Regions from separate parts of the Homo sapiens genome. Here region 2 is linked to region 1. The links come from fine-mapping of genetic effects on gene expression. A gene starts in region 1. The other region holds a variant in brackets. All regions are shown on one strand. Distances are between the middles of the regions.

What was found. PIP is the estimated chance that this variant, and not a neighbour inherited with it, causes the effect.
Region 2: its variant is fine-mapped to the expression of HSD17B11 in whole blood (TOPMed, PIP above 0.99).

What each region holds. Positions count from the first base shown.
Region 1 is chr4:87,384,210-87,399,785 of GRCh38, forward strand. HSD17B11 (hydroxysteroid 17-beta dehydrogenase 11) reads right to left here and starts at 6,979. Exons shown (of 7, transcript NM_016245.5): 1 at 6,652-6,979. The coding sequence starts at 6,861. It also overlaps the pseudogene RN7SL681P. RefSeq lists enhancers at 7,191-7,260, 7,274-7,846.
Region 2 is chr4:87,354,889-87,370,464 of GRCh38, forward strand. It overlaps HSD17B11 (hydroxysteroid 17-beta dehydrogenase 11), which reads right to left. Exons shown (of 7, transcript NM_016245.5): 5 at 2,391-2,528. Among named protein-coding and RNA genes, the nearest start is that of HSD17B11, 29 kb to the right of the region's middle. The variant A/G (reference allele first, on the strand shown) is at 10,314.

The DNA of each region.
Region 1 (15,576 bases):
AAATAATACTTTTATAATTTCTTATGCCTGTAATCTCTTAATCCTGTTATCTTCATAAGCTGAGGATGTACGTCACCTCAGGACCACTGTGATAATTGTGTTAACTGTACAAATTGATTGTAAAACATGTGTGTTTGAACAATATGAAATCAGTGCACCTTGAAAAAGAACAGAATAACAGTGATTTTTAGGGAACAAGGGAAGACAACCATAAGGTCTGACTGCCTGTGGGGTCGGGCAAAAAAGAGCCATATTTTTCTTCTTGCAGACAGCCTATAAACGGATGTGCAAGTAGGAGAGATATTGCTAAATTCTTTTCCTAGCAAGGAATATTAACATTAATACCTTGGGAAAGGAATGCATTCCTACGGGGAGGTCTATAAATGGCTGCTCTGGGAATGTCCGTCCTATGTGGTTGAGGTAAGGACTGAGATACGCCCTGGTCTCCTGCAGTACTATCAGGCTTATTAGGGTGGGGAAAAACTTTGCCCTGGTAAATCTGTGGTCAGACCGGTTCTCTGCTCTCGAACCCTGTTTTCTGTTGTTTAAGATGTTTATCAAGACAATATGTGCACCACTGAACATAGACCCTTATCAGTAGTTCTGCTTTTTGCCCTTTGAAGCATGTGATCTTTGTACCTACTCCCTGTTCTTACACCCCCACCCCTTTTGAAACTCTTAATAAAAACTTGCTGGTTTTGAGGCTCAGGGGCATCATGATACGTGATGTCACCCCCAGCGGCCCAGTTGTAAAATTTCTCTTTATACTGTCTCTCTTTATTTCTCAGCCGGCTGACACTTATGGAAAATAGAAAGAAGCTACATTGAAATATTGGGGGCAGGTTCCCACAATATTTTTCTTTTACTGAAATCTCCCTCACAAACTGTAGTATACTCTCATGAGGAACTCTTATTCCTCAAGGGACATCAACATCTCAGGTAAACTTTATTTTGCTCTCCTATACTTAACCAGCAGCTTTTGGCATTTCCTTTTACAAGTATATTAATGTTGTATACACATAGGATAGAATATTATTCAGCCTTAAAAAGAAATGAATTTCTGACACATGCTACACGTACAACCTTCATTATGCCAAATGAAATAAGCCAGACACAAAAAACAAATACCATATGAATGTACTTATATGCAGTACCCAGAGTATCATATTCATAGAGACAGAAAATAGAATGGTTGTTGCCAGGACCTGGGGAGAGAGAGGGCTGGGGAGATATATTGTTTTAATGGGTACAGATTTTCATCTTGGGAAGATGAAAAATTTCTGGAGAGAAATAGAAGAGATCACTGCATAATAAGGTAAATGTACTTAATGCCACTAAACTGTACACTCAGAAATGGTTAAAATGGTGTGTTATGTCATATATTTTACCATATTTTAAAAAGTTTTTTAAAAGTATATTGTATTGGCCAGGTGCGGTGGCTTACACCTGTAATCCCAGCACTTTGGGAGGCTGAGGTGGGCAGATCACAAGGTCAGGATTCTGGGAATAGCCTGGCCAATATAGTGAAACCCTGCCTCTACTAAAAATATAAAAAATTAGCTGGGTGTGGTGGTGGGCACCTGTAATCCTAGCTACTTGGGAGGCTGAGGCAGGAGAATCACTTGAATCCGGGAGGCAGAGGTTGCAGCAAGCCAAGATTTTGCCACCGCACACCAGTCCGGGCAACAGTGCGAGACTCTATCTCAAAAAAAAAAAAAAAAGTATATTGTATTGATTGGGTCTTCTCTTTTTTGAACAAATATATTTCCTTACATGAACAAATTTTACAATAAAAATTTATGTCCCATTTATTCTGTTTTCAGAGATTTGCTTATTACTGGTTGGCTTTCTGTAACCACCAAGCAACTAACCACCACTCCACTATATGGATGCAAAGATACCCTTCTTTCACATCCGCTGTCTCACTTTTGCCCTGTTTCCTTGGTCTTCCTCATTTAGGTTGGTCTGCTTTCCACACCTTCTGAATTGTGAAACTTTTTTTTTTTTTTCTGAGATGGAGTCTCGCTCTGTCACCCAGCCTGGAGTGCAATGGTGCAATCTTAGCTCACTGTAGCCTCTGCCTTCCCGGTTCAAGTGATTCTCCTGCCTCAGCCTCCCTAGTAGCTGGGATTACAGGCATGCGCCACCACACCCGTCTAATTTTTATATTTTTAGGAGAAACGGGGTTTCACCATGTTGCCCAGGCTGGCCTTGAACCCCTGGCCTCAAGTGATCCTCCCATCTCGGCCTCCCAAAGTGCTGGGATTACAGGGGTGAGCCACTGCACCCGGCCGGTGCAACAAATTTAAGTTCTAAATTCCTCCAGAAAAAATTCCGGACAGTGCCCTGTAGATAGTTGGTAAGAAATAAAAAATAAGCAGATCTTCAAAAAAAAAATGAATTCTTCCTTTAAAATGTTTTGCAGCACAGTACAATTGCTCATAACTCTTCAAGATTTCCCTTGGTAACTTTTTTCAAATATGTTTGTCTATTGGTACAACTAAGACCTTTACACCCATTACCTTGATTACTAAAAATTGAAAAACTTTTTAAATTATGCCCATTATTCTTTCAGTTATTCATTAATTCAGTTTTTCATTCAACAAATAGTCTTTGAGCATATATTATATGCTCACCACTTACTGTAAATTTTTCTTTCCAAACTAGTATTTTAGGAAAAAGGGTCTCCCTGTTGCGCAGGTTGAGTGCAGTGGCTATTCACAGGCATGATCCCACTACTGAACAGCACCAGAGCTCTGACCTGTTCCGTTTCCAACCTGGCTGGTTCACCCCTCCTTAGACAACTTGGTCTCCTTCATGCCCACCGCCAGAAGGTACCATATTGATTCTGAACTTATGCAGACATGCAGAGCGCACCACAGTCCAGAACTCCCGGCCTCAAGCAATCTTGCTGCTTCAGCCTCCTGAGTAGCTGGGGCTACTGAAGCATGCCACCATGCCTGGCTACAAACTATTCTAACCAAGCATGGGAATGAGAATAGTCAAGAAGTGATAGATTATCACAAAGCAGAATGAATAATTCCCATTATCAGGCTTAGTGGAACAACAAAGCTGACACCACCATTAATTCTTCCCTAAATTAACATATGGTACATGTGGACACTGCTGTCCTCATTACATGGATGAATCTAAGAGATTGTCTTTGTACTCTAGGTGAAAGGGCCCTCCGTTTGGCCCCTCCCTGCCCTGCCAGCTAGATCTCATAACAATCAAACACCACTCCACTTTCTTCCTCATTCTCCAGGTATTCACCAGCCCAAGAGCTTCACATCTCCAGTTTCTGCTACCTGGACTGCTCCAAATCCCCACCCTGTCCTTTCCCAATCAGGTTTAGTGGTTCTCAGCCTTCTATAATTTCAAATCTATAAAACGGCAAGAAAAATAGAGTGGGATGTGTATACCGAACTAGGATTGCCAAACTTTTGGCCAAATAAGGACACTCAAAACTAACAAAATGACCCTCATATGTTATCATGTAATTTCATTAACAAATATATTTTTTACCCACAAAAAGTAGGAAGGATATAATCTCAAAATAAAATATAGATTATTTAAATTAAACTAATTTAACCTAATAAAAACTCACTACATTGTCCTCAATTTTTCTGACCATTACTCCGAATCTCTGCTACTGCCAACCCGGTTCAATAGTCCCCATCATTTCATCTCATGCCTGGATTATCACAGTAGTCTCTTACTTTACTTGTTCCTTCCATCTTTTCTCCTCTTACATCTCTCCTAAGCCCAGCAGCTGGAGGATCCTCTTCAATAGGAATTACCCTCAAAACCCTTCATTGACTCCCCAGAGTAAAAAGCCAAAATACAGGAAATTTTATCATCTGTAGCTCCAGCCCTTTAAATCTCTACACCGGTACTGTCTCATAGAAATATAACGCAAGCCATGTATATAATTTTAATCTTTCTAGTAGTCACACCAAAAAAAAAAAAAACAATCTAGTGGCATATTTTATTTAACCCAACATATCTAAGTAATTATCATTTCAACATGTATACTATATAAAAATTATTAACACAAAATTCTACATTCTTTTCTTCATACTAAGTCTGCAAAATCCAGCATGTATTTCCACTCACAGTGCATCTCAAATCAGACTGGCCACATTTTGAAAGGCTCAAGAGCCACAAGAGGCTAGGGGCTACTACCTACCACTGTGTTGCACAGAGTAGATCTAGACCTTTCTTGTGCTTCTCTCCCTTCCCTCAGTCTATGCCAGGCTTTGCATTTGCTGATCCCTCCCTGCAGGACTCACTGTGCTCTCAGCTTCTTCTGATATTGATTCAATTATCTCCATCTCAGTGGGGCCTTCCTGGCCACCACTGTAAAGTCAACACTCCCCTCCTACCCTCCCCACCATATAGAGTCTTTTATCTACTTTCACCTTTTATTTTTTTCTTTATGCTTAACACCATCTAACAATTATACATTTTATTATACAGTGTGGCATACTGCCCCTAGCTCATGAGGCTCATGTCTTCCTCAGTGCTATATCCTCAGTTCTGCATTAGAACAGTGCCTAACAGATAATAGGTGCTCAATAAATATTTGTTGGATAAATGCATGTCACTGAAGATCAGAGAAAATTTTGTACAAACCAGCACTGGACATTGGAAGTCATTAACCTAACTAACTCTTACATACATTTAAATTTTAGCTTAAACCACACTTTGTCAAGGAATAATAAGAACACTGCAGTGTGTTTACCTTATACCACACTGTGCTAAATGCTTTGTATGCATTATCTCATATCATACTGACAGCTTTTTGAGGTATGTATTGTTATTTTATCCATTTTGCAGAAAAGGAACTAAAGCTGTGGAAACGTTGAGTAAGTTACCCAATCAGAAAACGAAAGCTCAGATGTGTCTGACTATATCACCATGCCAGACCTTGACCATGCTGGTCCAGGCTGGACCTGGGTTGTATTTTTCATTGCTCTTGTAATTACTTTTTTATTTATTAATTTAATTTAATTAATTTATTTATTTTTAAGACAGAGTTTTGCTCTTGTTGCCCAAGCTGGAATGCAATGGCATGATCTCGGCTCACTGCAACCTCTGCCTCCCAGGTTCAAGCAGTTCTCCTGCCTCAGCCTCATGAGTAGCTGGGATTACAAGTACACGCCACCACGCTCAACTAATTTTTTGTATTTTTGGTAGAAATGGGGTTTCACCATGTTAGCCAGGCTGGTCTTGAACTCCTGACCTCAGGTCATCTGCCCGCCTCGGCCTCCAAAAGTGCTGGGATTACAAGTGTGAGCCACCGCATCCAGCCTGCACTTGTAATTACTTAATGTCCATTTTCCCTACTAGACTGAGGTCATGGAACCTTATTTTCTGTTTGTCACCCTATCCCTAATGTCTAAGCAGCAGACAGTCATTATTTGTTGATTGCTGTCTTCATCAGCCACTCACTGGGTTAACCCTCATTTAACTTCACATCCTTTGAATTATTGTTTACAGCATTGCATGTCAACTAGTGTGTAATGGATAATGTTTCAGGCCATCAGGTATCTTCTAGAAACCCCTTTGTTCATCTACCAAAGGTCAAATAAAAGGTTGGATTCTAGGTCCTCTTCTCCTCCCTAAGCCACACCTACACTTGTCCTAGGTAAAAAATTACACTGAAAGTTTTTTTCCCTTTTATTGTTTTTACTAAAAGATGCTTTCCCGCCACTCCTTCAGTATCACAGGTCAAACGTGGTAAAAAATGTTTTTTAAAAAAATTTGAGACAGGGTCTCACTCTGTCACCCAGGCTGGAGTGCAGTGGGGCGTTTACAGCTCACTGCAGTCTCCACCTCCCAGGCTCAAGCAACCCCCCACCTCAGCCTCCCGGAAAAGATGCTTTTTAAAATTACTCTTGGCAATAACTATGGCAATGTAGCATTGGTTTCTGTTGAGTATAATCTTTTTGTTTGTTTTTTGAGACGGAGTCTAGCTCTGTCGCCCAGGCTGAAGTGCAGTGGCGCCATCTTGGCTCACTGCAACCTCCGCCCCGCGGGGTTCCCGCCATTCTCCTGCCTCAGCCTCCCCAATAGCTGGGACTACAGACGCCCGCCACCACGCCCGGCTAATTTTTTTTTGGTATTTTTAGTAGAGACGGGGTTTCAGTGTGTTAGGATGGTCTCGATCTCCTGACCTCGCGATCCGCCTGCCTTGGACTCCCAAAGTGCTGGGATTACAGGCGTGAGCCAACGGCGAGTATAATCTTTCAAACCACTTTTCTCATTAACAGTAAGTAGGACTTTCTCTTAATAGGTACAAGCTTCTTACTCTTTTAATATATAGCTAAAACGATTGTTTTTTCCCTATTTTTAAAATAGAGGGATCAATGAAATCAGGTTCAGGAAAAAATTATGAGTTATCCTTAGGGCAAAAATGGGGATCAATTTACAAATGGGGCAGTAACTGGGACTATTATAACCTCTAGGTCTGTTTATCATGTGATCATACAACATATTAATTCATGCCCTCCCATCTGCAAAATGGCAATACTAATTTTTTTTTCCTCCCTGCTTTGCAGAGATGAGGTAAAGGGTGGTTGCCAGCAAAATGCAGACACATCCACAAATTAAAGGTACCAGAAAGTAAAACATAGTAAACACTGTTACCTTATTTATATCCCAGAGAACCAGCTTGCTTTTAAGTTTAGCAAATTCATAGGCAGTCAGTCTCCCAATTCCATGCCCAGCTCCTGTAATCAGCACGATTTCGCCGGTGACTGATTTTCTCCTCTTAGGAATAAAAAGCTTCACGAAGGACTCTAGGGAGCAGACGATCAGTAACGGGAGAAGCAGGAGGATGTCCAGAAGAAATTTCATCCCTTTTGTGGCTGCGAGCGTTTGGTGTGTTTTTTTTTTTTTTTACCACTCTAAACTGCTTTTAGAGGGTAGCTCGATCTAACACCAGAAAGAGTAGGGGCGAGAGCAAGGAGGAACTCCCGTATCAAAGAAAAACAACTCCGAAACCGTTCCTTCCGCTGGGCTGGGCTTTGTTGGTCTTTCGCAATTGGCTCGGGCTGCAGTGCTTGCTAGCTCAGAGATCTGGGAGGGACGAAGTCCAGACCGGAGCAAAGCTTCCTAGTTCTGCTTTGCGCAGCCCCCACGCGGTGTGTGGCCGCGATTGTCTTTTACACCACTTTCTCCCGGTGTCGTGAGCCGGCCTTGGAGGGTTAGTTGCTCACTTGTTTTCCTAAATTGGATAAGTTCCAAGGATAACCGACAGTGTCCACAGGCCAGATGCTTCTTTCATAGTTGAAGGTTGCTTATCACTAGATAGGGGGTGCCGCTGGGCGCGGCGGCTCTCGCCTGTGATCCTGGCACTTTGAGAAGCCCTGGCGGGAGGATCGCTTGACCCCAGGAGTTCGAGATCAGCCTGAACAACATAGGGAGACCCCCGGTCTCTTTTTTTTTTTTTTTAATTAGCCAGGCGTAGTGGCGTGTGCCTGTAGTTCCAGCTACTCGAGAGACTGAGGCACGGGAATTGCTTGAGTCCAGGAGGTGGAGGCTACAGTGAGTGAAGATCGCGCCACTGCACTCCAGCCTGGACGAAAAGGCCAGACTTTGTCCTAAAAAACAAAAACTAGATAGAGGATGCAAATGTAGATTCCTATCTTAAAGGATCCTGAAAAGACCAATCGTTCTGCTTCCAGCTGAGAAATTGCGCTACATCACATTTTAGTTTGAACTAAGCACGATTTCTGGAAGACAGGGGAAATTTTGTCTGTTCAAGGACAGCTTCAATCAAGCGCCAGAAAAAATTGTTATCGTATTAAAGGGATTGTTTCCACAAGAAAGAAGAGTATATTTGAATAATCATTTTTCACTTGACCTATTAGAGTTTGAAAATAAAAAATATATGTTGTACTTTAGGAATTTTATCTTTATTCAAGTGAATAAATAGCAAATCATTTAGCCTAAAGATTACCTATGTAACATTTGGTTTTGTAGCCTATATAAATGGGTATTCAGTATATGCTAACTAGTGACTTGAAAAAATTCTAGAGATTGGTTACTGGAAGAAAAGACCTAACTAGGGCTTGTGTCCAGTAAGAGCTTAATAATGGTATTGCATGCATTTTTTTCCAACTCATTTTTGACAGACATTGGATTTGGGTTTTGCGCAAGACACTCCAGTGCTTGGGAAGGGACTTTGTTGTGTGACAATAGTCAACTTTCATATTTAAGAGCCAGAAAGATCACACAAAAAAATCAAAGTTCACAAATAGTTCAAACTCGATTGTCCCTCTTACTTAAGCAGCCATACGTTGTTATAGGGGATGAAGGGATAGTGGCAGCCTCACAAAAGTGAACCCCATTATAGAATTCTTTGAATTCAGAATATCTACAACTTTTTTTTGGATAGCCTCCAAATCCAAATTTACAAAACACTTGTATAGAAAGTTTACAAAGTGTTCTTCCACATATATTATTTCATTTGATTTTCAAAAGCCTCCTAGGAAATAGAGAAAAGTAGAGTCAGGATATATTTATACCTATACTGTAAATGAATAAATCTGTTAGATCAACTTTAAAATCTACACAGTGAGTAAAAGTGTAACTGGGGCTACACATATGTTCAGTGTTTGTCAATTTTTTGGTCCAACACCTACAGGAATAAATTACATCTGACATGGTGATCTACTATAAGAAGTGTTTCAACTATGTTGAGTTTCATATATTGAGGCTCTAGCTATGCTATTTTTTTTTTTTTTAAAGGAGTCTCCCTCTGTCTCCAGGCTGGAGTGCAGTGGCGAAATCTTGGCTCACAGCAACCTCAACCTCCACCTCCCAGGTTCAAGCGATTCTCCTGCCTCAGCCTCCCAAGTAGCTGGGACTACAGGCACGCACCACCACACCCAGCTAATTTTTGTATTTTTAGTAGACAGGGTTTCCCCATGTTGGCTAGGATGGTCTCAATCTCGATCTCCTGTTCCACCCACCTTGGTCTTCCCAAGTGCTGGGATTACAGGCGTGAGCCATGGCACACGGTCTGGCTATGCTATTTCTTATTCCATTCTATTAATTAAAAAAAACTGGGTAGTTTTAACCTACAGTTGATCAAGGTTTCATTGGTTAAGGGAAAGAACACAGCATTTGGACGCAGTCGTACCTGAATCCCTTATGTGTATGTGACTTCATCTCTCTAAACATGTTTCTAAATTTGTAAAATTGAAATAATACTTACCCTACAGGATTCTTGTGACGTTCAAACGAGTTAATAGAAAGCACATTGCTTTATCAACTATTCAACTTTATGTAAATTATAATTAACACCAATAGAATGTGAGTGATGTGAATGGTCTTGTGAATGATGGTTGTAACATGATTTTGTGAACAGCAAACTAGATGTTTACAATTAAAATCATTCACAGTTAGAACACAGATTAGCTTCTATCTGACCACTATGTGATTTTATGTATTTGTGGTTTTAAAAAACATCTTTCATTGGTAGGGTTTAAAATATTTTGTACTTGGGACATCTGTTTTTTAAAAAATTTTTTATCTATTTATTTTGAGACCGGATTATGAGACTAGCTAATTTTTGTATTTTTGATAGAGGCAGGGTGTCCCTACCCTGGTAGAGGCTGGTCTTGAACTCCTGGGCTCAACCAATTCACCGGCCTTGGCCTCCCAAAGTGCTAGGATTACAAGTGCGAGCCACTGCACCCAGCCTATGTGGGGCATCTTAATTACATGCTGCCTTCCCAGAAGTTGAAATAGTATTTAAAAAAAAAAAAAAAAGATAAGGATAAGGGGGTATTTTTCTTTAATTTTTTTTTTTAAACCCTAACTTGAACCAGAAGAATAGGGGTCTTTCATCAGTGTCTTGAACACTTACTTACTATGGCCAGGCATATGCTTCTTCTGGAGCTTCCTCACCTCTCTCAGCCCTCACCTAACACATTTCATTTTATCTTCTCAATAACCTTAAGCAGTAGGTTCAATAGAAATCTCTATTATATGAATGAAGAAATAAAGAATTAAGAGAAACTAAGCAAACCACTTGAGATCATAGTATAAATGTAGAGTTGAATTTAAACCTAGGCTGTCGTCACCGGCTTTTTTTTTTTTAAACTGGGAGTCCCAGCCAGAGCAATTAGCTGCCTTCTTCCCTAACGCAAAAAAGAAAAGTGAATCCAGTTCTGAACCATTAGATAAATTCGAAAAGATCAAAACTCCTGATTTTGAATCACAACATTAATAACACTTCCCTTTCATACAATTAGGTAAATATCTAATTAGCAGGGAATAGATTGCAGCTGCTAAAAGAATGCGTTCGAATTCCTACCAAGCTTTTAATGAGCCGTGTGATATTTGGTTAATTACTTAACCTCTCCTGAGTTCTCAGTTACCTCATCTGTAAAATGGATGTAATAGCAGCTTGGTTGCCGTGAAGAGTAAATGACATATATACAAAGCACAGAGTCATTCATAAGAGTAAAAAGCACAAGAGTAAATGAGATATATATAAAAGCACATCTTGCATACAAACATACTTAGTGAATGACAGCCATTACTATATGTTAATCAGTTATAGTAAGACGCCTGTATTTGCAAGGCTGTCTCTGTAGTATCCCAGCAGATTAGGAATGAAAGACCACTGTAACACTTAGCAATTACACAGGCCAGTGAAGAATGCTCACTTTCACTATAAAAAATACTGAGGAAAAATATACAGAAATGATTGCCAGACCTACCAACAGAGGTATTTCCCATAGTTTTCTTGTCATCCTGAGATAGAAGACTTCACAATTTGACTCCGAAGTCTGAATTTTAGAGCTGGAGAAATTTAGACATTAGCTTGTGTGCAATGACACTTTTTTTTTTCTATAATGAATCTATGAATTCAAAGTAGTACTGTGTCCGGAATTGGTGGGTTCTTGGTCTCACTGACTTCAAGAATGAAGCAGCGAACCCTCGCGGTGAGTGTTACAGCTCTTAAGGTGGCGCGTCTGGAGTCTGTCCCTTTTGATGTTCAGATGTGTTCGGAGTTTTTTCCTTCTCGTGGGTTCGTGGTCTCGCTGGCTCAGGAGTGAAGCTGCAGACCTTCGCGGTGAGTGTTACAGCTCTTAAGGCAGCGCGTCTGGAGTTTTTTGTTCCTCCCGGTGGGCTCGCGGTCTCGCTGGGTTCAGGAGTGAAGCTGCAGATCTTCGCGGTGAGTGTTACAGCTCATAAAAGCACCGCGGACCCAAAGAGCGAAAGAACAAAGCTTCCACAGTATGGAAGGGGACCCGAGTGGGTTGCCAATGCTGGTTCGGGCAGCCTGCTTTTATTCTCTTATCTGGCCCCACCCACATCCTGCTGATTGGTAGAGCCGAGTGGCCTGTTTTGTCAGGGTGCTGATTGGTGCATTTACAATCCCTGCGCTAGATACAAAGGTTCTCCACGTCCCCATCAGATTAGTTAGATACAGAGTTTGGACACACAGGTTCTCCAAGGCCCCACCAGAGCAGCTAGATACAGAGTGTTGATTGGTGCATTCACAAACCTTGAGCTAAACACAGGGTGCTGATTGGTGTGTTTACAAACCTTGAGCTAGATACAGAGTGCCGATTGGTGTATTTACAATCCCTGAGCTAGACATAAAGACTCTCCACGTCCCCACCAGACTCAGGAGCCCAGCTGGCTTCACCTAGTGGATCCCGCACAGGGGCTGCAGGTGGAGCTGCCTGCCAGTCCTGTGCCGTGCGCTTGCATTCCTCAGCCCTTGGGCGGTCGACGGGACTGGGCGCCGTGGAGCAGGGGTTGGTGCTCCTTGGGGAGGCTCGGGCCGCACAGGAACCCACGGAGTGGGTGGGAGGCTCAGGCATGGAGGGCTGCAGGTCCCGAGCCCTGCCCTGTGGGAAGGCAGCTAAGGCTCGGTGAGAAATCGAGCACAGCGCCGGTGGGCTGGCACTGCTGGGGGACCCAGTACACCCTCCGCAGCTGCTGGCCCGGGTGCTAAGTCTCTCATTGCCTGGGGCCAGCAGGGCTGGCCGACTGCTCCGAGTGTGGGGCCCACCAAGCCCACGCCCACCCGGAACTCCAGCTGGCCTGCAAGCGCCGCACGCAGCCCCTGTTCCCACTCGTGCCTCTCCCTCCACACCTCCCTGCAAGCTGAGGGAGTGGGCTCCAGCCTTGGCCAGCCCAGAAAGGGGCTTCCACAGTGCAGTGGGGGGCTGAAGGGCTCCTCAAATGCCGCCAAAGTGGGAGCCCAGGCAGAGGAGGTGCCGAGAGCAAGCGAGGGCTCTGAGGACTGCCAGCATGCTGTCACCTCTCAGTATTTTCAAAGTTAGAGTCAATCCTCTCAAACTCTACTGCTGTTTTATCAACTAAGTTTATGGAATATTCTAAATGCTTTGTTTTCATTTCAGTATCTTCCCGGCATCTTTACCAGAAGTAGATTCCATCTCAAGAAACCGATTTGCCTTGCACTTGTTTATGGGATGGAGATGGCTTCTTTCCTTAAACCTCAGGAACCAACTTCCACTAGCTTCGAACTTTTCTTCTGGAGCTTCCTCACCTCTCTCAGCCTTCATAGAATTAAAGAGAGTTAGGGTCTTGAACTGGATTAGGCTTTGGTTGAAGGGAATATTGTGGCTGGTTAGATTTATCCAGACCACTAAAACTTTCTTTATATCAACAATAAGGCTGTTTCACTTTCTTATCATTTGTGGGTTCACTGGCATAGAACTTTAAATTGATTTCAATAATGCTTCCTTTGCATTCACAGCTTGGCTAACTGTAGATGCAAGAGGCCTAGCTTTCAGCCTATCTTGCCTTTCAGCATGCCTTAAGTTTAATCACTTCTAGCTTTTGATTTAAAGTGAAACACATTTGACTCTTCACTTGAACACTCAGAGACCACTGTAGTGTTATTAATTGGCCTAACTTGAATATTGCTGGGTTTCAGGAAACAGGAGGCCTGATTATGGGGAGCAGGTAAGAGGGTTGTAGGGAGACGACCTGTTGGTGGAGCAGTCAGAACACATGATGCTTATTGATTCAGTTTGCTGTTTTATATAGATATGTGGTTTTTGGTGTCCCAAAACAATTACAATAGTAACATCAAAGATCACTGATCACAGATCATCTTAACAGATGTAATAATAATGAAAAGATTTGAAATATTGTGAGAATTACCAAAATATGACACAGAGACATGAAGCGAGCTTTTGGGAAAATTGTGTCAATGGACTTGCTCAATGAAGGGTTACCATAAAGCTTCAATTTGTAAAAAGCACAATATCTGTGAAACGCAATAAAATGAAGTGCTGTAAAATGAGGCATGCCTGTAATTTGTCGAATGTTCTATGGTTCATAATGTGGGAATCTAGGTCTCTCTGACTTTGAGGTTATACTCTTGAAATGTCCCTCCCCCACCACCTTTTTTTGGCCTCTAAGATGTCCTTGGATTTGTAAAGACTAGAGAGAAGATCCACCTTAAATGGATATTAGTTGGCTTCTTTCAGCCAAACACTCCTTTTGTCAGTAGACCTTAGAATCTGGAGAAAACAGAAAAAAAAAACCTCAAAAAACAAACATAAAACTAGCCAACCAACCAACAAATAGAAAACCACAGAGATGATCAATAGATAAATATCCAATAAATCATTAGGATAATGGGCAGTTTTCTTTAGGACTCCTCTGCTCCCACCTGAGTCTCTCCGCACTATAAATCACATCAATCCAACATGTAAAATGACCTGGCTGTTGCCCACTTTTTGCTTTATAGTGTCCATAGCTGTGGAAGCTGTCCAAGTATTCAGGAAGAGCCACACAGAGAAGAGGTCTTTTCAATGGATCTTTATTTTGAATCTAAGATATGACAAGAAAGTTCTTGAAATATGGGTTTGGATATAACTTTTGCAAATTACATGTCATATGTTTCAATGATAACTTCCTAGAAAATTAATAACTATGATACCACTTTAAGAAAAAATTAAAACGAGAAAAATGACTTTCTTTTATTTATTACAAGTGGTAATATGCTCGCAGCTCTAATGATGAGATTATCAAATAAATTACACATTATCACATATCACTGCAATCAAGAACCGCAATTTTAGTATTATCCATCTCAACATGTTTAAAAAATGTGTTGGCTGGGCACAGAGGCTCATGCCTGTAATCCCAGCACTTTAGGAGGCCAAGGCAGTCAGATCACCTGAGGTCAGGAGTTCGAGACCAGCCTGGCCAACCTGGTGAAACCCCATCTCTACTAAAAACACAAAATTAGCTGGGAGTGGTGGCGGGTGCCTATAATCCCAGCTACTTGGGAGGCTGAGGCAGGAGAATCACTTGAACCCAGGAGGTAGATGTTGCAGTGAGCTGAGACTGAGACACAGCACTCCAGCCTGGGTGAAAAGAGTGATACTCTGTCTAAAAGAAAAAAAAAAGTGTTACATACCTTTGTGTAAGCAATCTCATTTATTTTATTTCTTATTTTATTATTATTTTTTGAGATGTAGTCTCACTCTGTTGCCCAGGCTGGAGTACAGTGGTGCGATCTTGGCTCACTGCAACCTCCGCCTCCTAGGTTTGAGTGATTCTCTGGCCTCAGCCTCTGGAGTAGCTGGGAGTACAGGTGGGCGCCACCGTGCCCAGCTAATTTTTGTATTTATGGGGTTTTACCATGTTGGCCAGGCTGGTCTCGAATTCCTGACCTCAGGTGATCTGCCCACCTCGGCCCCCCAAAGTGCTGGGATTACAGACATAAGCCACCACGCCCAGCTAGCAATCTGCTTTATAATACTAAATTATTTCATTGAAATTAGCCTAAATAATACTTATAATATACTACTAAATTATGTTTATTAGCATACACCATTGGAGAAAAACTGAGTTTTAATAATATAGATTTAGAATGACTGACTATTTAGCAGATTTAACACATGGCCATTTTGATTAAGCTTTTTAAAAAAATTTCATGCTTTCCTTTACTATTACTTAAAATGAATAAACAAAATTAATTCTAATTAGTTTAAATATGTATTTGGATATTAATGGCAGTGTGGGCCTGTCTGGAGTGGCCACTGCCATGACACTGGCTGCAGCGAGGGAGGCGTGGCTGGGGCTGTGTGCTTCATGGAGCTGGCAGGAGCTGAAACAGGCAGAAGCCCCACCCCCTTTCTGAGTTGGCAGGGCTGGAGCCTTGAGCTCTGGAGTGCAGCTGTGGCTGCCCACCCATGGCTCTGGACCTGGGCATCCCTGTGCTCTTGGGGGCCAGGAGCAGGTAGGAGCCCCTGTAACTGCAGCTATCCAGCTGCAGCTGGGGACCCGGGCATCTCTGCACTCTCAGGGGCCCAGGAAGCCCCCGCGCTTCAGCAGACTCAGAAGTGCGTGCTCCTGCAGCCTGGACTCTCCCCGCTACAGGCACCTGCTCTGATTTTGGAGCAAAGCTGAGGCCCAGCCCCAGCGCTGTCACAAGCCGGCCAGATGTGCACATGCTCGGGGCAGCACTGACAGGCCAGCCCCCTGCCACCTTGGCTCCCTCCAGACTTTGGGTGCTGATGAGCATGGGAGGGAGGCGGAGTAGGTGCTGAGGGCAGCTTG
Region 2 (15,576 bases), 29 kb before region 1:
GGGAGAATTGCTCAAGGCCAATTTGAGACCAGCCTGGGCAAACAGCAAAATCCTGGCTCTCAAAAAAAAAAAAAAAAAAAAAAATTAGCTGGGCATGATGGCACACACACTGTAGTCCTACTCAGGAGGCTGAGGTGGAGGGTTGCTTGAGCCCAGTTCAAGGTTACAGTGAGCCATGATCACACCACTGCACTTCAGCCTAAATGAGACCCTGTCTGAAAAACAAAACAAAACCAAGCAAAATTGAATCTCATCATTACAATAAAATTGAGAATCCAAAAGTCTATCCAAGTAAGCATGTGAACTTATAATATGAATTTAATATCAGTGAGGAAAATGATGTATTATTTAATAAATAGTGCAGAAAACTCATTAACTATTTGGAAAAAACTATACTGTGACCTTACTTCTTAAATCAAAATAAATTTGGGTGGGGCAATGATTTAAATATGAAAAATGCAACCATAAAATATATGCTAGAAAAAATATGGGTAAATATTTTCAAAAACTTGGAATGAGAAAGACCTTTCTAAACACCTCACAGAACCTAAAGTCCATGAGAAAAAAATCCCTAAGAAAATTTTAATGTAAAACTAAATGAAAATAGGCTTAAAAGCAAACAAAAAACAACTGGGGAAAAAAAAAACATATGCAACAGATGTGATATATAAAGGGGTTTCTCAAATGTATGAAGAATTGTTTCTTATGTATTAATTAAAAATCTCTAGAGCTCAGCTGGGCATGGTGGCTCATGCCTGTAATCCCAGCACTTTGGGAGGCCAAGGTGGGCGGATCACTTGAGGCCTGGAGTTTGAGAACAGCCTGGCCAACGTGGCGAAACCCCATCTCTATTAAAAATACGGAAATTAGTTGGGCGTGGTCGTGCGTGCCTGTAATCTCAGATACTCGGGAGGCTGAGGCACAAGAGTCGCTTGAACCTGGGAGGTGGAGGTTGCAGTGAGCCGAGATTGCGCCACTGCACTCCAGCCTGGGCAACAGAGTGAAACCCTGTCTCAAAAAAAACAAAAAACAAACAAAGAAACAAACAAAAACAACTCTAGAGCTCAATAGCAAAAAGTGAGCTGATGCCATGAAAATAGGCAATTCATAAAAGGAAGTGCAATGTCCAAAAATCATATGCGAACATGAATGTAGCTAGTCATCAGGGTAAAAACAAAGATGATTCTTCGCGTACTGGATTGGCGGTGATTAAAAGAGTCACAGAAGGCAGACTGATGAAGAAGTAGAGAGTAAGTTGCTCTCCCTGCACTGTGGGTAGGAGTGCAAATCAGTGGAGCATTTCTGGAGAGGAGTTTGGCAATATGTAGGAATTTTTACAAGTTATATACCCTTTGGCCCAGTAATCCCCCTTTATGAATCTACCTGAGGGAGATAATTATCCAAAAGTGAAAATATGTGTGCCCGAGGATGCTTATTGCTGATTTGCTGTTAAAAATCCAGAACACTAAAAACAACCCTAAAATCATCACTAGGAGATGCTATTGCTCCCAATAATCAATACAATTTATTATAATGCTCTGTACTTTATTAGATGTCTGTAACATAATGCTGAGGGAAGTATGCAGTATACTTGCTGCTTCCAGGACCCCATGTGTAACATACGCCAGTTATAGAAAATTCAGAGAAGTCTAGAAGGATGTTTATCAAAATTTTGAGAGTGGTTTCCACTCAATAGAGGGTTTTAAGGAAATTAAAAAAGAAACTTTTCGATTTGTATTTTTCATTAACATTGGAATTTAAACAAATAAGTATGCATCATGTTTACAAAGACATTAAAGCTATTTCTAAAGAGAGAAAACATTAAAAATTATCTTCAAATTAATCCTTTATAATTTTATTTTTTAACCAAGTAAAGAGTATGATCTGGTACTCCTTTCGGAGGCTAATCTCTAGATTACCTCCAAGGGAAGTGTTTTTCACATGTGGTCTTGGGTTATCTCTATCAGAATCACCTATGATAATCACCTTTTTTAAATGTAGAGTTCCAGGCTCCCTTCCCTGCCACTACCCTACCCCAACCAAACCCAGTAAGTCAACATATCTGAGGGTGAAGCCCCAACATAGTTCCCAAGCACACCTGGTGACATGTATGCATATTTAAGCCTGTGAATCATTACTCAGGAGAAGAAAAAAGGAAGAGTTAGCAAGTTTACCAATGTCATTCATATTTACTTTTTTAGTCACGCTCCCTTGCTTTCTCTCTTTTTGGCTTTCCACCTGTTTTCCCACAATCTGCAGAAACTGAAATCAAAATGAACTAAGAGCTTTAACTATCAGGTGTTTTCAGGATTAAAACATTTAGGAAAACCCACAGAATGGCTGGTATTCATAGCAACCACCAATCCTTTTGTCTCAATTTCTCAACTTACCTTGTACTTGGATTTTTGATGAAGCCAGTGTTTACGAAATTAGGACACAGACATGTTGTTTTGACTCCAGTTATTTGTAAGGCAGCCAGTTCATCTGTCAAAGTTTTATGAAATCCAACAGCAGCAAACTTGCTTGAACTGAAAATAGAGAGTTTACAAAATAATTCAAGAATTCTGAAATGTCTGCCTGTTTTCCTCAGTTCAGCATGGTCCTCTGCAGAGCAATGTGGGCATTCCCTGAGTCTCAGGCCCCAGCCCAGAGCTACTGCATCAGAGCCCACATCTTACAAGATTCTCAGGTAAATCTGTAGGCACATTAAGGTCCAAGAAGCCCTGACATAGAAGATTTACTGCATCTTAGCATCACTTACGGAATAAGAACATTTCCTTAAAAAGCCTTTTAAAGAAAATTAGTAGAGTATTTGTTTTTGTTGTTGTTCCACAAAATTCAGTGTCACTATAAGCTGTTCCTTATTTACTTTAAGATGTCCATAGAATTTGCTGAAAACTTTTCCTGGATAAATCCTATTCTTCCTTTAAGTCACAGCTTCACTTCCTCAAAGAGGCCTTTCCTAACCCCCAGTCTAAATTATTTTCTCATTATATAGTAATTTTCAGTTTTCTATGATAGTATCTATCTCAGATTTGTAACTGAACATTCATTAGAGAAATTTTTTTTTTTTTTTTTTTTTTTTTTTTTTGAGACAGAGTCTTGCTCTGTCACCCAGGCTGGAGTGCGGTGGTGCGATCTCGGCTCACTGCAAGCTCCGCCTCCCGGGTTCCCGCCATTCTCCTGCCTCAGCCTCCGCAGTAGCTGGGACTACAGGCGCCCGCCACCATGCTCGGCTAATTTTTTGTATTTTTAGTAGAGACGGGTTTTCACCATGTTAGCCAGGATGGTCTCGATTTCCTGACCTCGTGATCTGCCCACCTCGGCCTCCCAAAGTGCTGGCATTACAGGCGTGAGCCACCACGCCCAGCTGAGATTAAATTTTTTAAAACATCTGTTTCCCACACCTTTCCTATAAGCTCCATGACTGTTTTGGTCACCAGTGAATCTCCAGGGCCCAGCACAGTGCTTGGCTCTTAGGTGCTCAATGAATATTTGTCAAATGAATGAATCACAATGCAAAGCGTTTATTTTAACAGCTCTTTCATTTGGAAGTAGTAGTGAAATTACTTATTCTAAATGGACATTACTTTCTCAGGTTTTTTTAATTTAAAAAGGGCTTTATTGAGATATAAATTCATATGTCACACAAAGCATTCACTTAATGTACACAATTAAATGGTTTTTGATATATAATTAACTTAAAAGTTGTGGTATAATATATATCATGTAAAACATGTCATTTTAACCATTTTTAAGTGTGCAATTCAGTGGCAATAATTATCAGATAATCTTTTATTCTGTTAAATCTGTATGAATTAGCAATTACACAAAGTAGCTATACATTCTGGCCAGTTAATCTATGCTTTGGAAGACAGAAAGCTGTGGAAATTTTTTAAAAAATTTTAAAAAAAATTTCTTACCTTTTTAAAAAAAGTTTAGGCACTTATTGAAGCTGATATGGTTTGGCTGTGTCCCCACCCAAATCTCATCAACAATTGTAATCCGAATTGTAATCCCCACATGTTGAGGGAGGGCACTGGTGGGAGGTGACTGGATCGTGGGGGCAGTTTTCCCCATGCTGTTCTCGTGATAGTGGGGGAGTTCTCACAAGATCTGATGGTTTTTTAGGTGTTTGGCAGTTCGTCTCTTGCTCTTACTCTCTCTCGCTGTCTCTCTCCTGCTGCCATTTAAGACATGCCTGCTTCCCCTTCCTCTGTAATTGTAAGTTTCCTGAGGCCTCCCCAGCCACGCAGAACTGTGAGTCAATTGAACCTCTTTCCTTTATAAATTGGCCAGTCTTGGGCAGTTATTTATAGCAGGGTGAGAGGGGACTAATACAGAAGGCTTAAAAGAAAGATTGTTAGATTAAATTATATGAGATTAAAAGCTTCTGTATACTGAAAAACAACATAAATAAAAATCAGATCTAAAATAGATTACTAAGTGCTAGACATTGCCCTCAGTTATTCTGATGCATTTTGGAGTTTTTTGGGGAGTCTTTATCTGTCACTTAGGCTGGAGTGCAGTGATGCAATCATAGCTCACTTCAACCTAGGAACTTCTGTGCTCAAGCAATCCTATCACCTCAGCCTCCCAAGTAGCTGGGACTACAGGCATGTGCCACAACACTTGAATAATTATTTTACTTTATTGTAGAGATGTGGGTCTCGCTACGTTGCATAGGCTGGTTTCAAACTCCTGGGGTTAAGTCATACTTTTGCCTCAGTCTCTCACGGCGCTGGGATTATAAGTGTGAGCCACAGTACCTGGCCTATTCTAAATAATTATTTTGTTTAATCTTCATAATACCCCTATAAAATATATTAAGATCCTCATTTACCAAAGAGGAAACTGAGGTAAAGATGGGTTATCAAACTTGCCTGAAGATACAAAACAAAGTGGCAGAATCAGGTTTTACGTGTGGGTAGTAAACCAGGTTTATATATGATATATTCTAAACTTTATTAACTCCAAGCAAATTAAGAGGCAAGTGACAAACTGGTAAAGCATTTGCAACATATAAGACAAGGATAAGGTTAATATATGGCAACTTTTATAAAGGAATAAGACAATACTCTAATAGATAAATGGCTAAAGGGCATTCATGGAAAAATCATAATATAAAAATGCCAGTAGATGTAGGCATATAAAAATGATTTACTTTAGGAATAATTCATATAAAAGCAAAGTAAAACAAGACGGAATTCTTGCCTAGCAGTAATTATAAGGACAGAAATTTTCATCTGAGTTTTTTTCAATGTACAGATATTTCACCTCATATAATTGAATCTAGCAATCTTTTCTTTTTAAGGCTTCATTCAATATATGTCAAACTTTCAAAAAAGTGACAAAAAACACTTTCTTTCCACAGCTTTCTATTTTCCAAAGCACAGGTTAACTGGTAGCCTTTTCTGGAAGGCAGTTTGGCAAAAGGTATCAAATTCATTAAAAGTATGCCACGCTCTCAGATCCGGTGTTTATCCCAAGGTAATAATCAATGATGTCTCCAAAGATTAATGTTCAAGGATAGTCCCTGGAGTGCAGTTCATTAAAGCAAATAGTTGGGAATAATGTGAAATGTCTGTAGTGGACAGCTGTTGTTTTTTCCCATCAGCATTTGTGTCCCCTTGTTCTGGTAATACCGCTGTCACCAAATGCATACAGTGATTGGCTCCAGGCTAGTCTAGTCACTGACCTCTAGAACAAGAACGTTTGAAGCCACTGTTGAAGTGATGTTTTTTTTCCCTTCCTGCTGGACTTGGAATTTAAAGGGTTTAACCCTGGAACTTCTGGTAGATATCTGGCCATCAGAGGAAGACAGCCTGCTTGAGACTTTAATCACAGAGCCAAAAAATTCCTCTTTGGGCCTGGGGCAGTTTAAGTTTTTTGTTCCTTGCAACTGAAAGAGTGACAAAATACCAATGATAATGAGTAAATTGAATAACTAGTGGCACGTATGTGCAGTGGTATCCCACGCAGAAATAGAAAACGATGTTGCACATAATATTTATTAACATATATTATTTTAAATTAAGAGCCAAAATTATATATTTTTTCAATGCATAACTATATGTTTGCATTTAAAATATCCTTAAAAATTATAACATGCATATCATGATTATTTTGTCAGAGGCATGTAAACCACAGCAACTCCATCTTAAATAGGAGCTGGGTAAAATAAGGCTGAAACCTACCGGGCTGTATTCCCAGATGGTTAAGGCATTCTAAGTCATAAGATGACATAGGAGGTCAGTACAAAATAAATATAGGTCATAAAGACCTTGCTAATAAAACAGTTTGCAATAAAGGAGCCACCAAAACCAAACCCACCAAAACCAAAATGGCCACAAAAGTGACCTCTGGTCGTCCTCACTGCTACACTCCCACCAGCGCCATAACTGTTCACAAATGCCCTGGCAACGTCAGGAAGTTACCCTACATGGTCTAAAAAGAGGAAGCATGAATAATCCACCCCTTGTTTAGCATATTATCAAAAAATAATCATAAAAATGGGCAACCAGCACCCCTTGGGGCTGCTCTGTCTATGGAGTAGCCATTCTTTTATTCCTCTACTTTCTTAATAAACTTGCTTTCGGCCGGGCATGGTGGCTCATGCCTGTAATCCTGGCACTCTGGGAGGCCAAGGCGGGCGGATCACGAGGTCAGGAGATCGAGACCATCCTGGCTAACACAGTGAAACCCCGTCTCTACTAAAAATACAAAAAATTAGCTGGGCATGGTGGCGGGCACCTGTAGTCCCAGCTACTAGGGAGGCTGAGGCAGGAGAATGGCGTGAACCCGGGAGGCGGAGCTTGCAGTGAGCTGAGATCGCGCCGCTGCACTCCATCATGGGCAACAGAGCGAGACTCTGTCTCAAAAATAAATAAACTTTCTTTCACTTTGCACTGTGGACTCACCCTGAATTCTTTCTTTCATGAGATCCAAGAACCCTCTCTTGGGGTCTGGATCGGGACCCCTTTCTGGTAACATCTTTCTGGCAACCACGAAGGGACTAAAGTGCAGAAACCCTGACCCTATGGCTACCTTTGGGTAAGTGTTGGGGTCCTGTAACATATTTCTGGCAGACCATAGAGTTACAATACTGAAGAGACCCCTGACCCAAAGGAAAATCATCAGGGCACAACAGTGGGCTGACTTTGAGTAAGTGGGGTGCCTACACCTGGGTAAAGAATGGGATTGGGTTAGAGGCCCAACTTAGGGGAGTTAGAGTCTCTCCTAAGACAGAGTGGGTTACAGGTCCTTCTTAATAAAAGGCAAGGACACTTGACTGACGTCAAGTTAGAGGCCTGACTTAGGAGGATTAGAGTCCCTTCTAAGATTTAGGAGGTTAGGCCAGGTGCAGTGGCTCACGCCTGTAATCCCCAGCACTGTGGGAGGCCAAGGCGGGTGGATCACTTGAGGTCAGGAGTTCGAGACCAGCTTGGCCAACACGGTGAAACCCGGTCTCTACTAAAAATACAAAAATTAGCCAGACGTGGTGATGCATGCCTGTAATCCCAGCTACTCAGGACACTGAGGCAGGAGAATTGCTTGAACCCGGGAGGCCGAGGTTGCAGTGAGCCGAGATTGTGCTGCTGCACTCCAGCCTGGCCAACAGAGCGAGACTCCATCTCAAAAATAAAATATAATAAAATAATAAATAAAATGAATAAGATTTAGGGGGTTAGAGGACCCTCTCAGTAAAGTCCCTTTCAGCTAAGAACAGGTTTGGCACTATGGGATGTTAACTGCTGTTCTCTTTGGATTAATCTGCCTTTGTACTCTTTGCTGATGGCTATGGGTGACAGGGTTAGGCATGCACAGGATCGTGGGACATGGGGAGCTTTTTCCTGCCTAAAAGGGGAAACTTGAGAGCTGACAGGATTGCTGAAAAAGATCCCTGCTCAACCGACAGCAGCAGCCTGAAGTTTTCAGTGTTGCTGCAATAGGTGGGTCTTTCTCTGGCCTCCCTGATCATTTTGCCTTCCCCACCCTGCCACAGGCAATACTTTCCGTCTCTACTTTTCCTTTCCCTTTCTTATCTTTTCTATTTCTCAGGGCGACCTTCTTGCCCAGAGACCACATGTTGAAATTCCAAGTCAGAGGTTGGATTAAAGATGATGGGGCCCAACTGGGGGTAAATTTAAGCCTTGCCAGTTTGATATTGGGTGCTAAGCAGAGTAGCTAATGTCTATGTTTTATCATGCATATTTTGCTCTGGTCAAAATGAAAAAAAAAATTTTTTTCCTTTATGATGCAGCTTGGCCCCCGGGGAGATGGTGCCACAAGCCCGATCACTAGGGCTGCTCAGGGAAAAGGAACCCAGAAGCCTGGCATGCCAGCAAAAGGCTAAGAATTTGTTACCAGTCAGATTTTTAGCTTCTCTCTCTCTGTGCAAACAGTTGAATGAATGGAAAAAAAATCAGTGTTTATCACCTCTGTAAAGACTTAATTAATGCGAAAAAGAATTCTAAGGCTAGTCTTAAGCTGGTGTATTTTGTGCTATGAATTCGTTTTTCCGTGTAGAGGGGTACTTCAGGATAAAACATGGGCTTAGAACACCTGTAAGCCCGCTTTTCAAGACTACCCAGCAAGCTGGTCAGTAACAAACTTGGTTGCAGGTCCCTGAAACAAACAAAAAACCCGATGAAGTCTCCACCTTGTTTTATGTGCTTGGGAGCTTGACCTTTTAACCGCATGGCAGTACCTTCTCTTGGGCTCTGTCTTCCAGGGAACAAGAATTTTAAAGTTCATGTCATAGCCAGCTCTGAAAATCATATTAAATAGTTAAAAGCCTTTGCAAGCTCAAAATTAACTAATCTAGACTACTTCTGAGAAAAGAAATAGACACTGCCCAGACCTGTAGCTCAGTAGCTAAGGTTTTGCACTTTCACAGTGGCAGTCTAGGTTCAATTCCCCACCCAGGAAATAAGTCATTACTGATTTAATATATGTGTCTATTCTCTTCTCCTCCATGGACTGTCTTCAATTTTCCTTCTTCTAAGCACCTAGGAGTTTACCTTTGGTAAAGTTCAGAAGCTGGAAATATTGGCCGCTTGGCATGGCTAAAGTCGGGTAATAAGAGCTCTGAAAGGATTTCTTCTTTAAAGAGCACTATGGTGAAAAGTCAGCTTAATTAAAAGTGGAATAAGCTATAAATATATTTAAAAGGCCTTTATGTTTTTCTCTTCTTGAAGCTTGTTTTGCTGGAAAAAGGTTTTTTCTTCTCAGTCAAGTGAATTATTTTTGTTTTTTTGTTTTGTTTTGTTTTGTTTTGTCTTGTTACTATTAATGCTCACATGAAAGGCCCGTAGATAACTTCTGGTAGCTTGGGACTACTTGGGAAAAACAAAGGCAGCACCACAGATCCAGTTTTGGGAAAAAAAAAAAAAAAAGAAAAAAAACCCCTCTGTTTTCCTCATGAGACCCCAAGAATTAAAAGCAGATAGATTCCTCTCAAAATCAAAGGCTCTGTTCTGTTTTGCATTGTGTTATCTGACGGTTTTGAGTTTGGGGGAGGGGGGTTATCAGCAATTACTTTGCATTATGAGAGAGCTTTGGTGTGTAACAACTAGGTAGGAAATGTACTTTAAGGGGTGGCTAATAGTAGTTATGGAGGGATACTTGACTCTGCACACTTGGATCAGAGAAGCATGCTCTAGGCCACCTGGAAGATAAGGCAACATCCTCACCCCTCACTGGGAGATGAGACTCTCATGAGGATGGGCTGATTACAAAATGGGCTGATTGGCTTTAGGTTGCCTTGCAATGAAATGCACAGTCGGTAAAAGCACTGCATTGTCTTCTCCCGTAGTATTTCCCTCCTTTTGGGGATCCAGGATCCAGTATAAAATACCACCTTTAATTTTGGAGATCTGTCTGCCTTCAGCTGCTTATTTGCTACTTATTTAGCCCTAGAAATGCATGCTGTCCCAGCTCTGTTCCTCCAAGGGCTCCACTCTGAAACCTGTCATCCAATTAAGAAACTGGCAAATGGTGGGGCGAGGTGGCTCATGCCTGTAATCCCAGCACTTTGGGAGGCTGAGGTGGGCGGATCACTTGAGGTCAGGAGTTCAAGACCAGCCTGGCCAACATGGGGAAAACCCGTCTCTAGTAAAAATACAAAAATTAGCTGGGTGTGGTGGTGGGCGCCTGTAATCCCAGCTACGCGGGAGGCTGAGGCATGAGAATCACTTGAACCTGGGAGGCAGAGGTTGCAGTGAGCCAAGATCATGCCACTGCACTCCAGCCTGGGTGACAAGAGCGAAACTTTGTCTCAAAAAAAAAGAAACTGGCAAACGAAAAACTGT[A/G]TAAGTGCTGAATCTTCTATTTATAGTGTATGTTTATATATTACAAAGCTCTAATCAATTGACTTAGAAAAGTAAGTGCGTAAATATTTTTTCAGAAAAATAGAAACTAATGCCTTTTTGTTCGTGTGACTTTAGTAATCTTTTGAAAATAAAGACAGTTTTAAAGTTTATTGGTAAAATAAAATGTCTTAAAAATGTAGACATTTGGTCTAAATTAAGGTCAGATATCAGATTTGCTAAATGCTTTAAGGACAAACTGTTTCTTTAACTTTTGAAAACTGTTCTATTTACCTACTTTAAAGCCATCAGATTCTAGATAAGGCCTCATGCCCCTGGCTATGCTGGAGAGTCAGCCCTTATCTGCACTTCTGCCTGGTGTGTCCTAGACTAGTCTCCACACCTAGTACATAATTAAAATCCCTTACTTAACCAACGTTTTCATCAAAAATAAAAGTTGCTAGAAGTTAGCATTGTAATGTGTAATTAAGACTACTGAAGAAACAGTTTTACATGCAAGGTGTATAAAAAAGGTGAAATGTGTTTTTGGTTAAAAAAAAAATTGTAAGAAGAAGCATGGGAATGCGGATTATTTTCTGCCTAGATTAAAGTGTTAAAGGATTGTGTTAAGTGAAAAAAAAAAAAAGATTTAAAGAAGTTGTGGAAGGTTTTTTTTAGATGGAGTTTTGTTCTTGTTGCCCAGGCTGGAGTGCAATGGCGTGATCTTGACTCACCGCAACCTCTGCTTCCCGGGTTCAAGCAATTCTTCTGTCTCAGCCTCCCAGGTAGCTGGGATTACAGGCATGTGCCACCATGCCTGGCTAATTTTGTATTTTTAGTAGAGACAGGGTTTCTCCATGTTGATCAGGCTGGTCTTGAACTTCCGACCTCAGGTGATCCACCCATCTTGGCCTCCCAAAGTGTTGGGATATACAGGTGTGAGCCACTGCACCTGGCCTTTGTGGAAGGTTTATAAAAATTAATTGTAAGAGATTCTGTGTATGAACATATTAGCTAAAGTTAAAGGGGTATTATTCAGTTTTTCCATAAATTAAACATTGGAATAAAAGCACAACAGGTTTCTCTTAGAGGACTTATCTGCGCTTTCACAAAAAAATGTAAAGGGTTATAAAGGTTTATAAAATCTTACCTTAGGATTAAACATTAAAATTGGGTAAATATGTCTCTAAGGTTTTATTAAAAATTGGGTTTAACATTAATAATACATTAATGTAAAGGTGAAATTTCGCTTATTTGGTATAAAAATCATCCAGGAAGCATTCTCAAATGTGAAACAGTGTTTTGCTTTCTTTGGACTATATTTGTATAAATATGTTATTGGTATATGTTCCAAAGTTATAAGAAACTCCTTTATTTCTAATATGACTTAGTGTATGTTACTAATAATTATAATTGTTATGTAAAATTTTGTATGCCACAAAAGTAACCAAATTTCCTTATCAATTGTGGCTTTAATAGTGGCTGTCCTAAAGTTTTTATCATCCACAGACAGTTGTTGTCTTGTTTTAATCTTCTTTAAAAGGTGGTTTATAATCAACTATAGAATTCTAGCAGATGTTCTTAAATGCAGGTTGCTAATAACTTTAGAAATTGTAACATTAAAATAAAGAAAACAACTTTCGAAACTCTCATAAAAAGCTGGAATGTTCATGAATAACAAGTAGAACAGGAGTTAACTGAATTAACTGAACCAATAGAAAACTGAAGTAATTTTTTTTAACTTTGCTTAAAATATTGCTGATCTTTTATTTTTCAAAGGAAACTTCTTTTAAGCTATTTACAGCTTGCAGCAATTAAGTAAAATATACTCCTATGAACAAAATTTGAAACATATTTGTTTCTCTCTACCTGATTTCTCCGGAATGGAAACCAATTGTAAGTATTCTTAACTTATGGCAATATAGTTGTTTGTATAAGTGCAACAAAAATCTGTTTTCTTTTGTAATGGGACACTATTGGAGAAATTGGTTATTTTACCAAGGCTTTGACTGGAATGGTGTGCTTTCCTTTAAAGAATCAAACTTGACTTGTAAAGCCAATAAAAGCCCTATGGGAAACTGGCCTCATACTTTGCCTACACAGTCCCTGTACAGGGTTTCTGACCTATGGTAAGTAAAGAATGTCACTTTCTTACAGGTCCAGGAGGCCCAAGTTAACTTGGGACCTCAAAAGAAAAGTGTTTTACCCAACTCATAGGTATTTAAGGGTACAAACCCATGGCAGGGCTTAGCTTTAAAAAAGTCTTACCTGAGATTCCTTATAAAACAGAGTTCCATCAAAGCCAATTAAAAAGCCTGTGTGAAAAATAATTATTCTCGCTGCACTTTATACAAATAATCAGACCAAGTATAATAAAGCAAATCAGTCTTACCATAATGTGTCTTTAATAAAAATGGGAAACTGGAGAGAGAATATTATATTTCAAGAACTATAGTATACTTGTTATTAAATTCTAGTCTCAGTTGTTTTTAAGTTTGTTTCTGCAATTTAGGCTAACCCTGTTTATTCCTGTAAACCAACCAGGGATCTCTAACTGCTGCTCAGAAGAAACAAGAGGGATGGGTAATGTAAAATTCTAGGCACATTGCAATCAGCTAGCAACCCCATATCAGCTTGGTCTCAACAGTTGCCCAGTTCATGGAAAGCCTTCTAATTTAGTTTACTTGGAATAACTTTACTTACTTTGCTTTACTCTTATGGAATATATTGCTGTTATACCCTTTGTGTGGGAACACAGGACAGGCTTACTAAATGTTTTCTTAAACTAAATACTTATTAATCTCCCAGATATCACCTCTTGTCAAAACTCAAGAGTCGGCTAGGCACGGTGGCTCATGCCTGTAATCCCAGCACTTTGGGGGGCCGAGGCGGGTGGATCACAAGGTCAGGAGATCAAGACCATCCTGGCTAACATGGTGAAATCCCGTCTCTACTAAAAATACAAAAAATTAGCCGGGTGTGGTGGCGGGCACCTGTAGTCCCAGCTACTCAGGAGGCTGAGGCAGGAGAATGGCATGAACCCGGGAGGCAGAGTTTGCAGCGAGCTGAGATCGCACCACTGCACTCCAGCCTGGGTGACAGAGCGAGACTCCATCTCAAAAAAACAAAAAACACACACACAAAAAACTCAAGAGTCATGAATGGCCCTCGCCACACTGATGCTTTCTGACTAAGCTCCTCTCTACCCTGAACACAAGAGACCCTAACAGTTAGGCAGGAATATCATGGCCCCATTCAGCCTGAAGAAGTTACAAAAGATGGATTTTCATCCGTCTGCAACTCTTAGGATTAAGAGTTCTCTTATAAAAGGGAAGGGGGAAATGTCAAGAGGCATGTGAAACAGAACAACTCCATCTTGAATAGGAGCTGGGTAAAATGAGGCTGAAACCTACCGGACTGCATTCCCAGACTGTTAACGCATTCTAAGTCACAGGATGAGATAGGAGGTCAGCACAAAATACAGGTCATAAAGACCTCGCTGATGATAAAACAGGTTACAGTAAAGGAGATGGCCAAAACCCATTAAAACCAAAATGGCCACGAGAGTGACCTCTGGTCGTCCTCACTGCTACACTCCCACCAGCGCATGACAGTTTACAAATGCCATGGCAATGGCAGGAAGTTACCCTACATGGTCTAAAAAGGGGAGGCATGAATAACAAACTGCTTGTTTAGCAGATCATCAAGAAATAACCATAAAAATGGGCAACCAGCAGCCCTTAGGGCTGCTCTGTCTATGGAGTAGCCATTCTTTTATTCCTTTACTTTCTTAATAAACTTGCTTTCACTTTGCACTGTGGACTCACCCTGAATTCTTTCTTGCACGAGATCCAAGAACCCTCTCTTGAGGTCTGGATCGGGACTCCTTTCCATTAACATTTCTGCATGGTGAAGCTATCCATAAATTTAGTTTTTTCTTTTACTAAACCTTATTTTCTGATTTTACTTAAGTGACCAAAAATGCAAGAATATATTGAAAGTCAGAGTTAATGATCTTGAGTGTGTAAAAGGAATAACATATTTTTCAACTTTATGGTGAACCTATATATAGAAAGGCATATATATATATGAAAGCTAAAAGTGAGTAGATTTTTGCCCCCTGCACTTTGTAACATTACATCAAATTCCTTCTTATTAGAAATAGTCTAAATTATTCAGATGTCTTGGAGGGCTGAAAAAAATAGTCTGAATTAGTACTTCTTATTCCAAATTCTTTTTTTTTTTTTCTTTTTGTGTTGAGGTCTGTCTTTGTTGCCCAGGCTGGAGTGCAGTGGTGAAATCATGGCTCACTGCTGCCTTCAATTCCTGGGCTCAAGCAATCCTCCCACCTCAGCCTCCTGCGTAGCTGGGACTACAAGCACGCACCACCACACTTAGCTAATTTAAAATATTTTTTGTAGAGATGAGATCTTGCTATGTTACCCAAGCTATTCTTGAACTCCTGAGCTCAAGTGATCCTCCTGCCTTGGCCTCCCAAAGCCTGGGGGATTACAGGTGTCAGCCACCATGCCTGGCCCCAGATTTTTCTTTTAAATAACATTTTGTTACAAGCTAATGTTCAGAACTCAGTTTTACTGAGCGTTCCCATACTGGCAACTTTTCATGCTTATAAATTGGCTATTTGGGTTGACAGAATATATTAGCTAGCTAATTGTTTTCTTTTAAAAATCAAAATACTTGTGAACAAATTACTTAGCAAGCAGCAAAAAACATTTTAGAATAGAATCAAAAGCTTCACCTTCCACCATAAATCCAGTTCTTTTATCTTGCATTCTTCATATTAATCATTAAAACTGTTGAACTAAAACTCTGAAAAGAAATTAAAATTTTTTTCCTAAGATAGGCTACTAGAGCTAGAATAAATTATTTTCTGTGGCTGTAGTAACTCAGGACAATGATAGATGAGGGCTGAATTACAGGGAAAAGGATCAATACTCTTATTTTTCCTCTCATTTCATCCCAAAAACTAGGCGTCAGAGCATATATGATGAATTCCACTGGGGCAAAGCATTCTGGAAGCTAAAATTAGAGGTGGGAACTCCCTGTTTTGTGTGAATAACAGGAAGTGGAATTGAAATGTAATGCCAACAGGCAACCTCCTGTTATTGAACACTTGCAGGATTTCAGATTTTATGCTAAGTGCAATACATTGTATGATTTAAATCTTATAGCATTCTAAATAAGTTAGATATTATTATTATTATTATTATTTTTTGAGACGAAGTCTCTCTCTGTTGCCAGGCTG